Regions from separate parts of the Homo sapiens genome. Here region 1 is linked to region 2. Evidence: fine-mapped expression QTL. Tissue or cell type: aorta. Region 2 holds a variant in brackets; the other region holds the start of a gene. All regions are shown on one strand. Distances are from middle to middle.

The links. PIP is the estimated chance that this variant, and not a neighbour inherited with it, causes the effect.
Region 1: it holds the start of GPC5, and the variant in region 2 is the best candidate, but not a certain one, in a credible set for the expression of GPC5 in aorta (GTEx, PIP 0.76).

What each region holds. Positions count from the first base shown.
Region 1 is chr13:91,393,862-91,401,915 of GRCh38, reverse strand. GPC5 (glypican 5) reads right to left here and starts at 3,295. Exons shown (of 8, transcript NM_004466.6): 1 at 2,707-3,295. The coding sequence starts at 2,869. LOC124903189 (a long non-coding RNA gene) reads right to left here and starts at 5,039. Exons shown (of 2, transcript XR_007063831.1): 1 at 4,755-5,039; 2 at 4,328-4,570. RefSeq lists silencers at 3,211-3,480, 3,187-3,481.
Region 2 is chr13:91,332,360-91,340,413 of GRCh38, reverse strand. No RefSeq gene overlaps it. Among named protein-coding and RNA genes, the nearest start is that of MIR17HG, 11 kb to the left of the region's middle. RefSeq lists a silencer at 3,682-3,856. The variant G/A (reference allele first, on the strand shown) is at 3,498.

The DNA.
Region 1 (8,054 bases), 62 kb before region 2:
ATCTCTAATTCTAATCACATTTACACCTTCTCTCCTTTTTTACATTTCTCATCCAAACATCCTTAGGAGCTCAATAGGCTTAAAAGAATTGGAGCAGGGTAGAGAACAAAGGTGAGGGGAATCTGAGAAACAGTTTAAATCACTGCTCTCACAATTTTAATAATTTCAATTTGGATAACATTTTTATCAGAAAAAGTAAAAGTCACAAAGGTAGGAAGAAACTAAAAACTTATTCTACCTGCTTATATTATACAAACTGTGTTTTGGCTAGACATCTCAGGGATTAACCACTGTGAACAAGAAATGCAAGAAAGCAGTAAAAATACGTACTTCCAAAAACAAAATCAAATTAAATGTGTTTGTTTTAGTCAGTGAAAGGGTATGTGCTAAATGAATAGATTTGTTAAAAGATATTACTATTTGTATTCTCATGGAGAAATGACTAAATTATGTTCTCTCTTGAGATTGAGGATAATCTTAGAAAATATGATAGTCAATTACCATATTCAATCATGTTAAATGTTGTAGATCATATATAAATACAAAAAGAAAGAAAATTATTTATTAAGCATGTGGTATGTTTGGTTTACTCAATTTGGGATTGAGGGGTTTTTTTTTTTAGAGAGATGAGAGGAATCAGTGTTTAAAAAAGTTTAATATTTTGCTGAATTATTTGTAAAAGAATGACCAACAATACAGACACAAAACTTCAGAATTATATCAAATTCCTATATGAATGCCTTTTTTGGGGGGTGGATCTAAATCAGCATAGCACTTTTGTGTGACTTTTTCTTAGTGAAAATATTAAAGGAACTTAGCATTTCTTTTCACCAGTACCACTGATGTCTCTAAGCCTCTTCTGTGAGTGCTCCCGTGATTCCTCCATCACCTTCAGCCACAGATTTAAAAAATCTACTAGCAATGGGGAAACAATCCAGAGTGACTTAGAAAAGAAAGATTCCTTGTCGTCATGGAACTTTTTTGTGTGTCATGTGTATCAAATGCAAATAATTACAGTCATTTCCCTCTCCTTAGGACAGAGCTTTAGTTTTCCCTGACATCCTGGTAAGACACTGTCTCAGTGACTGATACTCTGGAAAGTTCATCTTTAAAAGAGATGAACACCCAATCAATGTGTTGCATTCAGCAGATACCAGAAATACTGAGATACCAGAGTGGAGTGAAATCAGGGCCTTACTGGGGAGAAGGGGCTGGCCATCAACATTCGGTGAACATAGCAGGCAAAGTTACCATATTTGGGGACTAAAAATCTAATAATTCAGGTAAAGATCTCACATCATAACACCCTCACCACCCACACGCACAAACTCACTTTAGTTTTATCAGCAGCCAATAAAGTGAGATTTATTTCCTAATGAAAAGAATGCACTAAGAAAAATACAGATCTATAAGGCGATATTTTATTTGGGGATAGAAGAATCGCCCTAAACTGAGAATGTCAACTTTGTTTCAAGTAATACAGAAAAAGCACCTAGTACCAAACAGGTATACAAAGAAATAGCTGGGTTTAAGACTGGTCATGTAAACTCAAATGGAGTCAGTGTTCCCGAATGCCTAGATTTTCTTTCTGGGATGACTTAAAATTGAGCAAAGCAATCAAGAAAAGCGGCTACAGCTCACACTTCCTCATTGCTACAAGCAAGTCCCCCAACCCTGGAAACTCGGGACTTTAGACTTAAGCGTCCTCCACAAGTTCTTTGTTCAACCAGTAACCTCACAGATTCGTCTGTGTTGGCTTCATAGTCACAGCTAAAGGGGTGCATGGCTCTAGTGAGATCTTACTTAGCTCTAGACACCTGCTATTGCGTTTGACAGCTATGACCTATTCTTCCAGACAGAACCTACACTGGAACTCCCACCAGCAGAAGGAAATTGGTGCGGTGGAAACGGGGAGCAGGGTTCGAAAGCACAGGCAAAAGGCGCTCACAGGAAGCAAGATCCACGCTGGCCACACAAACTGTATCTTTCCCTTTGGAACGCTGGTACATCTCATCCATGTCAAGTGACTCCCCAGTACGTTCGGTTTGATCGCCTGTTGCCCTAACACTTTTCAGGCTAAAAACTACCTTGGTGCTGGGAGACACACTGGGTGGTTGGGTTTCCTCCAAGCAGGGCTTGATACGAGGGCACAGAAGGGCAGCTAAGGGTCACGTCTCTGGGTGCACAGGGTCCAAGTCCTAATTACAGAGGAGACCGGCTGCCCTTGTCTGTGCCCCATTCTCCAGCAAAGGGGTATATCGCAGGTTTGTGATTTTTAGTACCAAACTTGGGGCGATCAATTCAATTCCCTCCACCTTATGAGAAAGCAGTAAACCGAAATCCCCGGTGGGGCACTGGGGAAATTCCTACTCGGAAGAGAAACGGAGTTAGACTGCGTGTCCCCCACGCCCTGATGTCTGCTTTCCTGGTTCCTTCCAACTCATCCTCCAAGACGAAGGGAGCCGGGCGGGAAGCAGATGCCCAGAACGGGGATTCGTCGCAGGCTTGGTTAGGGGTCCCCAGAGCTGCGCTGCGCTGCACTCAGGCTACCCGCACCAAGCATCCCCGGAAGCCTCCCCGGGATTCACCCTGCGCGGCTGCAGGGCCCGAAAGGTCATCTTCCCACGAGTGCCACCAAGGGAGCCTGGGGGAGCGAAGGCCGGGCTCGGACGCCGCCAGTCCAGAGACCCCCTCATTGCCCCTTACCTGCCCGCGGCGAATCCGGCAGCCCCCTGACAGCTCCCAGCAGCCGCCACTGGAAAAGTTTCCGAACTTCTTCGCAGGTCTGCACGCCCTCGCTGCGGGCGGACCCAACCAGGGCCAGAAGGAGGAGGCAGCGAAAGCCCACGGGCCAGGTCTGTGCGTCCATCCTCGCCGTCCTGGTCCCCTTTACCCGCCAGTGGACCCCACTCGCCCTGCGCGCCCTGGCTGAGCTGCAGACGTGGAAGACACAGCGGCCGAGGCTCTCGAGCGGTGCGAGCCGGCTGCGGGGTGTACGGACCGCCCGCGGGCACCGGCTTCACCTGGGAGCAGTTAGCTCTTCCCGGAGGAGGCCCTAAGCTGAGACACCAGAGTTTTCCAGCTGAGCACCCTCTGGTCTTCTTCCCTAGCCGAGAAGAGTGGGCGGCTGGGCGGGGCGAAGAAAACTAGTGGAGCCGCAGGGAGCCCGCAAGCATCCGCTCTGGCCACCACTGCTGCAACTGCTGCCGCTGCCGCCACTGCCGCCACTGCCGCCACTGCCGCCGCCGCCGCCGCCTCCGCCGCCCGGCTCGGCTCGCAGCAGCTAACCTGGGATGTGCCCGCTCGCTGCGCTCCGCGGAAGCCCCGCCCCGCACTCCCCGCCCCGCGGACAGGCCACGCCCCTGCCACGCCCCCGGCGCGCTGTCCCGCTCCGCACCCACTAAGATGCTGTCATACGCGGCCCAGTGCTGAAGACTCGGAGCGACATCGATGCAAATAAATAGAAGGAAACCCGGACCTCGCTCTCCCAGTCCGTTCTGGGGAAGAATCATCTGATAAAAACAGAGAATGTATAAATAGGGTCAGAGAAGACAAGAGATGAGAAACACCAACTGGAACTAAGAAATATCTCATCTATGTAATCAAGGTCCTCAGTACATAGGAATTTGTATTCTAATTGCATTAAATAGGATCTGGACATAATACAAAAGGCAAAAACTATTTACGGTTAAAGATCTCAATTGAGAGACTTCATAACACTTAGGTTGTTAAAGAGTGCACATGAGAAGTTATTTTTTAAAATGGCTTTGTTTTACTGCTTAGGAACATTTTTCTATAACATGATTTTCTGAAAGGAGGTATAAGAATTACAATCAAACTTTATCACATTCTTATCACAATGAAATCTAGTTTTAAGTCTCTTATCACCATTTAGCATCATATTTTACTTCAGCACTTTGTATTTGTGGGGCTCCTCTGAGCTTTACCACTTCTGGAATTTCTTTAAAATATTTTTCAGAGAGCAATTAAGTTAAGAGTGCTCAGGGGAGTTCCTTACAAGGAATATAGAAAAATAAATACTTTAAGCAATTTTAAAATGGCAAAGGAATTTTGTCAATTTACAGTTTATGAGAGGAATGCATTACGCACCATAAACCAAAGGGCAGGTGCATTTTTTAAATGTGGTTGACTCAACAACTAAGCCTGTAAGAGTGTCTCAATCTACAGCCACTTGAAGAGAGTACTCCTTCTGTAAAATAAACTAGTTAAAAGCATCAGGCAGAGGGGACAATGAATGCTTTAACCACTTTAAGGAATTTCATCTCAAATTTGAACCCTTACCAAGAGATAGTAGTGAAAAACTTTATGTCTTAGTGAAGATTTTTAATGAACATTTAATATCAAAGGCAGCACTTTCAGCAGTATATCACTTGCTTTAAAACCATTCCAGGGCAATGGCTGAAACACTGCTTCAGAGTGAAATCATGCTACTTGGTGTTTGGCATCAGTTTTCTGAATATGAGATTTTGTTTCAAAGGGCAGTGCTCTTCATGAATCTCTTCTGCTCTAACCACCAAGTATGGAAAGATTGTCTGGAAGCCACCTATATCTATGAAAAGAAACAAGAAAAACCATGAGAATGTATATAGTGCTTATGGGCCAGATAATATTCTAAGTATTTTATGGAAATGAATTCACTCATGTAATCTTTATAACAACCTTATAAAGTAGTTACTACTATTATCATTGTTTTACAGATGAGGAAACAGGAACACAGAGGTGAAGTGACTTACTGAATGCCTAAGGTAAGTGACAAAGCCAGAAATCAAACTGAGGCTTCCAAATCCAGACCGCATGCTCTTCTCCAGAGGCTCTCCTTGACTATTCTGTGGTACAGAAAAACCCATCAGGTTTCACCAAAGGCCTTTGGGCAGCAACACCAAGGGCTGTTTATTCATTTAGCAGATTTTTTACTAGTAAATATGCATAATTTCTATCTATATAACTGTATTCTACTGGAATTATGTGTATCTCTATATAAGGCTAATAAATTCCCAAGTTTTTCTAAAACATCTTTATTGTTACCAAGATCTCTCCTTGATAGATTTGATCATCTTAGACTCTTAGCATCAAAAAGATCCTTAAATTACCATCTATCCCATTAACTGGAATCTCTAAAACGGTGTGTCTTGCAAGGATAAAAATCATAAACACAACTGAGTATTGATGGTTCAGTAAAAGCTAATTGACTAATACATATTGGTTGAAAACATACAATTTTTTTAACCGCTATTCTAGGCTTAACAGGAGTTTAAAGAGACACACAAGCAAGTTTTCTCAGTGATTTTATAAGTTAACAAAACAGGTGGGAGGTCATTTATAGAAATGCCATAGGAACTAACAAGAATATATTTAGTCTGTATAAAATATCCCCATTAACAAAAAATAAATATATTTTCCTTCTACCTCTTATCCATAACTGCTAGCAAAGTGGATGAGCCAGCATGTGGCCTGGAAGGGCATCTTGTCCTATTAGCATCCCTAAGCCCACCACGCAAGGCAACAGTATGCCTGCTACTGAAGCTACCAAGCTTCAAGACAAGTTTTCTAGTTCCACCCAGAACACAATGCCACGATCCCTTTTATAAGAACATTCTAGAGCAACCTCTGCAAATTATACCATAACTAGCCTTTTATTCAATTTACTGGTAAACATTACAAATGAAGCTAGGGAAAACTGTCCATAATTTGATAGTTATAATGCCTTATTTTACAAAATGTATTTAAAAAATGTATTGAATGTCTTTTATATAATAGGCATTGCGCTTTGCTTTCAAAATACCAATACCCTTGGATAGGAGAATCCTTAAATGGTCATTATTTAAAATACAGCTTAGTAATATTCTAAATCCAAAACTTCCCTGATACTTTCTATGTAACTGTTTATATGTTTATAGTTTGTCAACTTAGGACCTTGTAAAGAGAAATAAAAAACCTCGGCCGGGTGCGGTGGTTCACGCCTGTAATCCCAGCACTTTGGGAGGCTGAGGCGGGTGGATCACGAGGTCAGGAGATCGAGAGCATCTGGCCAACATGGTGAAACTCCATCTCTACTAAAAATATGAAAATTAGGTGGGTGTGGTGGCCCATGCCTGTAATCCCAGCTACTCAAGAGGCTGAGGCAGGAGAATCGCTTGAACCCAGGAGGCAGAGATTGCAGTGAGCCCAGATCGTGCCACAGGACTCCAGCCTGGGGGACAGAGTGAGACTCCATCTCACAAAAAAAAAGAAAGAAAGAAAACCTCCAGTGTGGTTTAGGTGATTTAATGATATCACAGAGTCTTCAACCCTGACTATTCTTTTAGGCTAAGACTGGCCACTAATTAGTTTACCCTCAGAAGCTGATTTGGGTAACTTTTATACCCAGTCAATGACAAGAGCTAAGATTTATTAAGCACTTACAGATATTATCTCATTTAACATTTCAACCATTCCATGAGACAGTTACTATTATACTACTGAGAAAACTGAAGTACAAAGAGATTAAATAACCTTCCAGAAATCCTGATAAGAGCCCAAATGCAAGCCAGGCTTCATAACTTTTGTACCCCTTTAGTCACTACACTCGCCTGCCTGAAAAGCCAGACACCTGGTTTGTGGCCCCTTGAACTCAACCTATCATATAAATATAAACTCTGGTACTCACAGCTATCCATGTGGACAACCTGCTGAACACCTTGGTTATAGTGGTCCAGAGCTCTGCATTGGCTTCAACGATGGCCTGATAGTACCTCACTGACGTGGGGCTGGCCAAGGTACTACCTGCTCCTACTTCCTACCTCCACTAAGCTTTTAACTAGGAGAACTGTTTTGCAAGCACTAAAATCCCACGAACTGCCTTGACATCTTTGAGCCTCACAGGTCCCTAGTCATGAGTTCTCCTGCTCTGGCCAGATATGCCCCCCACCCAGATGGAAAGTCTTGCTTGCTGGCTACCTCCCTTAGCTGGACCAGCTCCATCCCACCCTGTCTTCAACCTAATGGCTTTCACCTCCCTTCAGAGCAATTAGTCCAACAAGATAATCACATCCTCCTGTGGGAACCAAGGGGTCCTCCCCACAACACACCATCTTCTTGTTACTACAAAGCTTGCCTCCCACAACTCCTGCAGGTTCACTCTGCTCCCAAATGAAGCCCCTCCTCCCCTGTATGGCCCTGCATGGCATGTGGTAGCCTCCTCCCCTGGGCTATGAGTATGTGTGACTAACAAACTGCTGTAAATCTCATCTGTCCAGTCTTGTGTGTTTGATCATCTCGTATAATTTACAAAGGGGGATCCCTCTTTCATCAACTGGGTGAAAAGGAGGTTGTCAGAGAAAGAATATCCTTAATACAAATAACTTCCACTTCATTATTTCCAAAAAAGTGCTGACTTTTGTCTTGCCCTACCTTCTCTCTCCCTCCGATGTAGGCTCTAAGCCGTTGGTTGCACAATAAAGAGAACCAAGTTGGATGTCAGCCCGAGCTGCCCCAGTAATGAATTTCTGCCACCAAGTAACCAGGAGAAAATTGAGTGATACTCCCCTGAAATCTCCTCTAGTGAAGATAGTAATGGTTCTGTTAAAAAAAAAAAAAATCACCACCGGGCACAGTAGCTCTCGCCCGTAATCTCAGCACTTTGGGAGGCTAAGGCAGGAGGATCACTTGAGCCCAGGAGTTTGAGACCAGCCTGGGCAACATAGGGAAACTCTGTCTCTACAAAAATTCCAAAAAAATGGCCAGGCATAATGGCACATGCCTGTAAGCCCCAGCAGCTTGGGAGGCTAAAGTAGGAGGATCACTTGAGCCCAGCAGGTTGAGGCTGCAGTGAGCCATGTTCGCACCACTGCATTCCAGCCTGGGTAACAGCGTGAGACCCTGTCTCAAAAGAAACGAAAAAAGAAGAGAGGAGAGGTGAGGCGAGGTAAGGCGAGGCGAGGAGAGGAGAGGAGAAGGCAAGGCTGCCTAAAGGAGAGACTACACAGCAAATAAAATATTACATAAAATACTCAAAACCAGACACCAAACTGAAATTAACATGACAGTCAGTGGGA
Region 2 (8,054 bases):
GGGGTCACAAAAAAAAGTAAAAACAAGCAAACAACCAACAACAACAACAACAACAACAACAACTCTCCAACCAGACTGTGAGAGAATCAGATTTTCACATATGCAACACTCCTTATCCCAAGCTGACTGGCACCAGTGTGCAAAAACTTGTCCTTGACTCATGTTTTCTACACTAGAAAAAGTGAAATTGAGGTGGACAAGCAGCTTCCCCACCATCTTTTCTTTGGCGGGAGACCTGTCCATGCCTCAAACCACAGGAAGCATCATGATTGCCTGAAGAGAGATATATCTCTAAGGACAGCCAGTGGCAAAGGGTGGAAGCTAGACTAGCATCTCCACCCCTGGAAACTCTGCTGTGTAGCTCAGCCAAAGGAGACGCCAAATTAGAATGGCTGTTCAGCAGCACCATGCTGAAGTGGGTATGTTCCACAGGTCCCCTGGGCACAAACCCCTAGCAAGTCTTTCAACACTACACAGATATCCCCTCTGGGATCTTTCCCACTCTGAATGGGCAGTGTTCTGATTATTTGCCAGAGCTGAGACAAACCTGGGCTTTAGGCACCATTTAGCACCAAAAAGGAGGTAGTGACTTAGTGTGGGAAAACATAAGAAACTCAATAGGTAAATTATGAAGAATCTCTAAGCAAACATATTCAATGAAAAACAAACAAGGCTGGGCACAGTGGCTCATGCCCGTAATCCCAGCACTTTAAGAGGCCAAAGCAGGAGGATCACTTGAACCCAGGAGTTCAAGATCAGCTTGGGCAACATAGTGAGACCCTGCCTCTACAAAAAATGAAAATTAGCCAGGTGTAGTGGCACATGCCTGTAGTCTCAGCTCCTCTTGAGGCTGGGGTGGAAGGATCACTTGAGCCGAGGAAGCTGAGTTGGCAGTGAACCATGATTGTACCACTGAACTCCTTCTTGAATGATAGAGCAAGACGCTATTTATTTGTTAAAAAATCAAAACAAGACAGACCAGAAGACTGAAATAAATAACTAATTTTTCAATGCAAAGACATAAGAAATGATAGCAAATAGGGAACTATGACCTTCCCAAATGGACAAAGCAAGAGCCAGTGACTGACCCTAACAAGAGAGCAATATGTGAGCTCTCTCACCAAGAATTATAGCAGTATAAAAATTTATAGCAGTATAAAAAATTTACAGCAGTATGAAAAACTTAGTGATAACCAAGATAATGTAGAAAAACAATTCAGAAATGTATTAGAGAAATTTAACAAACAGGTTGAAATAATAATAATTACAAAACCCGGAAATCTTGGAACTGAGAAGTACATTCGCTGAACTGAAGAACACATTGAAGGTTCTCAACAGCAGAGTGGATCAAGCAGAGGAAAGAATAAGTGAACTTAAATGAAGGCTATTTGAAATTATACAATCAGAAGAGAAGAAAATAGAATGAAAAGGAATGTAGATTGCTTATAAGATAAAGAAAATTACCTCAAAACACCAACTCTAAGAATTGTTGCTGTTCAAGAGGGAGTTGAGCAAGAGCAAGGGGTAGAAAGCTTAATTTAAAAATAATAATAACAGAAAACATTCCAAAACTTAAGAAAGATATAAATATCCAGGTACAGGAAGTTCAGAGTACACCAAACAGGTACACCAAACAGTACACCAAATAAGACTACCCCAAGGCATGTAATAATCAAACACTCAAATGTCAAAGGCAAATAAATTATCCTAAAAGCAGCAAGATAATAGAAGCAAATAATATAGAAAGGAATTCCAATTCATCTGGCAATAGACTTCTTAAGGGAAACCACACAGGCCAGGAAGAATGACACTTTCAATGCACTGAAAGAAAAAAAAAAACAAACCTTCCAGCCAAGAATACTTTGTCCGGCAAATCTATTTTTCAACTATGAAGGAGAGGTAAAGTCTTCCCCAGACAAACAAAAGCGACAATAATTCATCACCACTGGAGCAATATTAAAAAGAAATGCTACAGGGAGTTTTACAATCTAAAAGGAAAAAAAATACTAATGCCCAAAAATAATTTTGAAGGTTTAAAACCCACTGGTAAAATTAAGTACAGAGACAACCCCAGAATATTCCAATACTATAGTTGTTGTGTGCAATCGACTCAGAACTCTAATATTAGACCTAAAAGACAAATCTATCAAAAACAATAATAGCTACAAAACAAGTTAAGAGAGATAGGCATTATAAAATATGCAAATTGAGACAAGTGAAAGTCAAAAAGTGAAAAGGATGAAGTTAAAGTGTAGAGTTTTCTTTAAAAGCTTTTGTTTGTTTTGTGGTGTGTGTGTAATGTAAGATAAGTTGTCATCTCTTTAAAATAACTTGTTTTATCTCTAAGATGTTTTTGTAAGCCTCATGGTAACTACAATGCAAAAACCTGTAATAGATACACTAAAAATAAAAAGCAATGAATTAAACAGTGCTACTAGAGGGAATCACTTAACCATAAAGGAAGACAGCAAGAAAAGAAGGAAGAGAGGAATTACAAAACAATCAGAAAATAAGCAACGAAATGGCAGTAGCAAGTCCTTATTTATTACACTGAATGTGAATAGACTCAATTCTCCAACTAAAAGGCATAGAGTAGCTGAATGGATAAAGAAGTGGACCCAACTATATGCTGCCTACAAGAAACCTACCTTACCTGTAGAGAAACACATAGACTAACACATAGAGAAATGATGGAAAAAGTTTTTCCAGGCAAGTGGAAACAAAAAAGATCAAGAGTAGCTCTGTTTGTATCAGATAAAATAGACTATAAGTCAAAGATTATAAAAAGAGATGAAGACAGTCACTATATAATGATAAAAGGGTCAATACAGTAAAAGGGTATAACAATTATAAATGTCTATGTACCCAACACTGGAGCTCCCAAGTATATAAAACAAGCATTAATAGACCTAAAGGGAGATATAGACTGCAATACAGTCATAGTAGTGGAGTTCAACATCCCACTCTCAGTAATGGACAGAGTACCTAGACAGAAAATCAACAATGAAACATCAGAGTTAAAACCTCACACTAGACAAACTAGATATTCATAGAACATTTGTCCGAACTTCTGTAGAATACACATTCTTTCCATAAGCACATGAAATATTCTCCAGAGTGGAACATATTTTAGGCCACAAAACAAGTCTCAATAAATTTTAAAAAGTAGAAATGATATCAAGTAGCTTTTTTTTTTTACTGCAAAGAAGTAAAACTAACAATCAATAACAAAAGTAATCTTGGAAACTACACAAACACACAGAAATTAAACAACATGCTCCCAGATGACCAATGGGTCAACGAAGAAATTAAGAAGAAAATTTAAAAATTTCTTGGAACCAATGAAAATGAAAATATAACATACCAAAATCAATGGGGTACAGCAAAAGCAGTACTGTGATGGAAGTTTATAGCAATAAATGCCTACATTAAAAAAGTTGAAAGTCTTCAAATAAATGACCTAATGATGTACCTCAAGGAATTAGAAAAACAAGAAC[G/A]AACCAAGCCCCAAAATTGAATGAAAGAAATAATAAAGATCAGAACAGAAATAAATAAAATTGAGATAAAAAACACAAATTAATGAAATAAAAAGTTGGTTTTTTGAAAAGATAAAATCCATAAACTTTTAGCTAGACTAACTAAAAAAGAAAAGAGAGAGAAATAAACAAAAATAAGTGAAATAAGACACAAAAAGGAGAAACGACAACTGAGACCACAAAAGTATAAAGAATTATGAGACCACTACAAACAATCATATGTCAACAAATTAAAAGACCTAGAAGACTTGGATAAATTCTTAAACACATAAAACCTATCAAGATTAAAACCTGAAGAAACAGAAAAATTTAACAAACCAGTAATGATTAATGAGATCAAAGTGATAATAAAAAGTCTCCCAAGAAAGGAAAGCCTAGGATGTGATGGCATCACTACTGAATTCTACCAAATATTTAAAGAAGATATAATAGCAATCCTCAAACTCATCAAAAAAAATTTAACATGAGAGAATACTTCCAAATATATTCTATGAGGCCAGCATTACTCTGATATATATATACACACACACACATATATATACATATATATATATAAAACACACACACATATATATACGTATATATATACACACACATATATATACATATATACACACATATATACATATATATACACACATATATACATACATATATATACATATATACACATATATATACATATATATACACACATGTATATGTATAAAACACACAAAAAAACCCAAGGACACAAAAAAACATAATACTACAGGCCAATATCCCTAATGAACATAGATGCAAAAATTCTCAATAAAATTGCAGCAAACCAAATTCAACACATTAAAAAGACCATTTACATGATCAAATGGGATGCATCCAATGGATGCAAGGATAATTCACTATAATCAAATCTGTAAACGTGATACATCACATTAACAGAACAGAGAACAAAAACCATATGATCATTTTGATAGATGAAGAAAAGGCATTCAATAAAATTCATCATCCTTTTGTAATAAAAACTGTTAACAAACTTTGTATAGACAGAACATACTTCAAAATAATAAAGGCTATGTATGACAAACATATAGCTAACATAATACTGGATGGAGAAAAATTGAAAGCCTTTCCTCTAAGATCTGGACCAAGACAAGGATGCACTTTCACCAGTTTTATTCAACATAATACTGGAAGTCTTGCCTAAAGCAATTAAGCAAGATAAAGAAAGAAACAACATCCAAATTGGAAAGGAAGAAGTCAAATATGCTTTGAATGCAATGACCTGATCTTGTATTTAGTGAAAACTAGAGACTTCACCAAAAAATTGGTTAGGACTGACAAATAAATTTAGTAAAGTTGCAGTATATACAATCAAGGCTGGGTGCAGTGGCTCACATCTGTAATCTCAGCACTTTGGGAGGCCGAGGCAGGCAGATCACTTGAGGCCAGGAGTTTGAGACCATCCTGGCCAACATGGTGAAACCCTGTCTCCACTAAAAATAGAAAAATTAGAGGGGCGTGGTGGCATGTGCCTGTAGTCCCAGCTACTCGGGAGGCTGAGACAGGAGAATCTCTTGAATGCGGGAAGCAGAGGTTGCAGCAAGCTGAGATTGCACCACTGCACTCCGGGCTCAGCAATAGAGTGAGACTGTCTCAAAAAAAACAAAAAAAAAAAATCAGCATTCAAAAATCAGCAGTCTTTGAATACAGTAACAGTAATCAATTTGTAAAAGGAATCAAGAAAGCAACCCAATTTACAATAGCTACAAAGAACATAAAATATTAGGAGGCAATTTAACCAAAAATGTGAAAGATCTTAACAAGGAAATCTATGAAACATCGATGAAAAAAATTGAAGAAGAAACAAAAAAAAAAGGATACTTTATGCTCATTGATTGGTAGAATCATTAATATTGTTAAAATGACAGTAGTACCCAAAGCAATTTACAGATTCAATGCAATTTGTATCAGAATACTGATGACATTCTTCACAGAAATGGAAAAAAAAATCCGAAAACATAAATAGAACCACCTAAGACCTCCAATAGCCAAAGCAATTCAGAGCAAAAAGAACAAAGCTGGAGGCATCACACTACCTGACTTCAGAATAAATTACCAAGCTATGGTAACCAAACTATCATGGTGTAAAAAAAAAGCTGGCATGAAAACAGACACATAGACCAATGGAACATAATACGGGACCCAGATATAAGTCTATACATTATAGCCAACTCATTTTTTGACAAAGGCACCAAGAACACTCAGTGAGGAAAGAAGATTCTCTTCAATAAATGGTGCCAGGCAAACAATAATCATATGCAGTAGAATTAAACTAGACCCCTATCTCTCACCATATACCAACATGAAATCACAATGGATTAAAGACTTAAATCTAAGACCTGAAACTATGAAACTACTAGAAGAAAACATTGGAAAAATGCTACAAGACATTGGGCTACACCCAGAATTTTTGTGTTAAGACCTTGAAAAGCACAAACTACAAAGCCAAAAATAGATGAATGGGAATACATTAAGCTAAAAAACTTCACACAGAAAAGGAAATAATGAAAAAAGTGAAAAGACAACCCACAGAATAGAGAAAATATTTACAAACTATCCATCTGACAGGGGATTAATGACCAGAATACATAAGGAGCTCAAACAACTCAATAGCAAAAAAACAAATAATCTGATTAAAAAATAGGCAAAGATTTGAAAAGACATTTGAAAAAGATTTGAATAGACATTTACCAAAAGAAGACAAAGAAATGGCCCCCAGGTATACAAAACATGCTCAACATCACTAATCACAGAAATGCAAATAAAAACCACAATGAGACATTATCTCACCACAATTAGAATGGCTTTTATCAGAAAGTCAGGGAATAACAGATGCTGGTGAGGATGTGGAGAAAGGGGAGTCCTCATACACTGTTGGTGGAAATGTAAATACACTGTTGGTGGAAATCAGGCTGGGCACAGTGGCTCATTCCTGCAATCCTAGCACTTTGGGAGGCTGAGGCAGGTGAATTGCATGAGCCCACGAGTTCAAGACCAGCCTGGGCAACATGGCAAACCCCCATCTCTACCCAAAATACAAAAATTAGGTGTGGTGGCATGCACTTGTAGTCCTAGCTACTCAGGAGGCTGAGGCAGGAGGATCAATTGAGCCCAAGAGTTTGAGGCTGCAGTGAACCATTTTCATGCCACTGCACTCTAGCCTGGGAGACAGAGTGAAACCCTGTCTAAAAAAAAAAAAAGAAAAGAAAAAAAGAAAAGACATCAATATATCAAAGAGATTTGCATTCCCATATTTATTATAGCACTGATATGGTTTGTCTCTGTGTACCCACCCAAATTTCATCTCGAATTGTAATCCCCACATGTCAAGGAAGGAAGCTGGTGGGAGGTGATTGGATTATAGAGGTAGTTTTCCCCATGCTGTTCTTGTGATAGTGAATGAGTTCTTATGAGATCTGATGGTTTAAAAGTGTCAGTTTCCCTTCTGCTCTCTCTCTCTCTCCTGTTGGCTTTTGAAGAAGGTGCCTTGCTTCCCCTTCGCCTTCTGCTGTAATTGAAGTTTCCTGAGGCCTCGACAGCCATGTGGAAATGTGAATCAATTAAACTTCTTTTGTTTATAAATTACCCGGTCTCAGGAAGTATCTTTATAGCAATGTGAAAATGGACTAATACAAGCACTATTCACAATAGCCAAAATATGAAATTAAACAAAGTGTCCATCAATGGATAAACAGATTAAGAAAATGTTGTAAATATACACAATGGAATATTATTCAACCCTAAATAAGATTAAAATCTTGTCATTTGCAGCAACACGGATGGAACTGGAGGTCATTATGTTAAGTGAAATAAGCCAAGTACAATAGACAAACATTGCATCTTCTCACACATATGTGGGAGCTAAAAAAGTGAATCTCTGGCTGGGTGCAGTGGCTCATGCCTATAATCTCAGCACTTTGGGAGGCCAAGGCAGGTGGATCACCTGAGGTCAGGAGTTCCAGACCAGCCTGACCAACATCTCTATTAAAAATACAAAATTGGCCATCTCTATTAAAAATACAAAATTGGCCGGGCATGGTGGCACATGCCTGTAATCCCAGCTACTCAGGAGGCTGAGGCAGGAGAATCGCTTTAACCCAGGAGGCGGAGGTTGCGGTGAGCCAAGGTCGTGCCATTGCACTCCAGCCTGGGCAACAAGAGCTAAAGTCCATCTCAAAAAAAAAAAAAAAGTGAATCTCATGAAGATAGAGAGCAGATTGGTGGTTACCAGAAGCTAGGAAGGGTAGAAAAAAGAGGGGATGAATAGAGTTTCATTAATGGGTACAAAAGTACACTTCGCAGAACTAAGACCTGGTAGACCTGGTGCTCAATAGATGAGTAGAGTGACTATAATTAACATCAGTGGATTCTAAGGCAAGATGTGGTGGTTTATGCCTGTAATCTCAGCACTTTGAGAAACCAAGGTGGGAGAATGGCTTAAAGCCAGGAGTTTGAGACCAGCCTGGGTAACAAAGC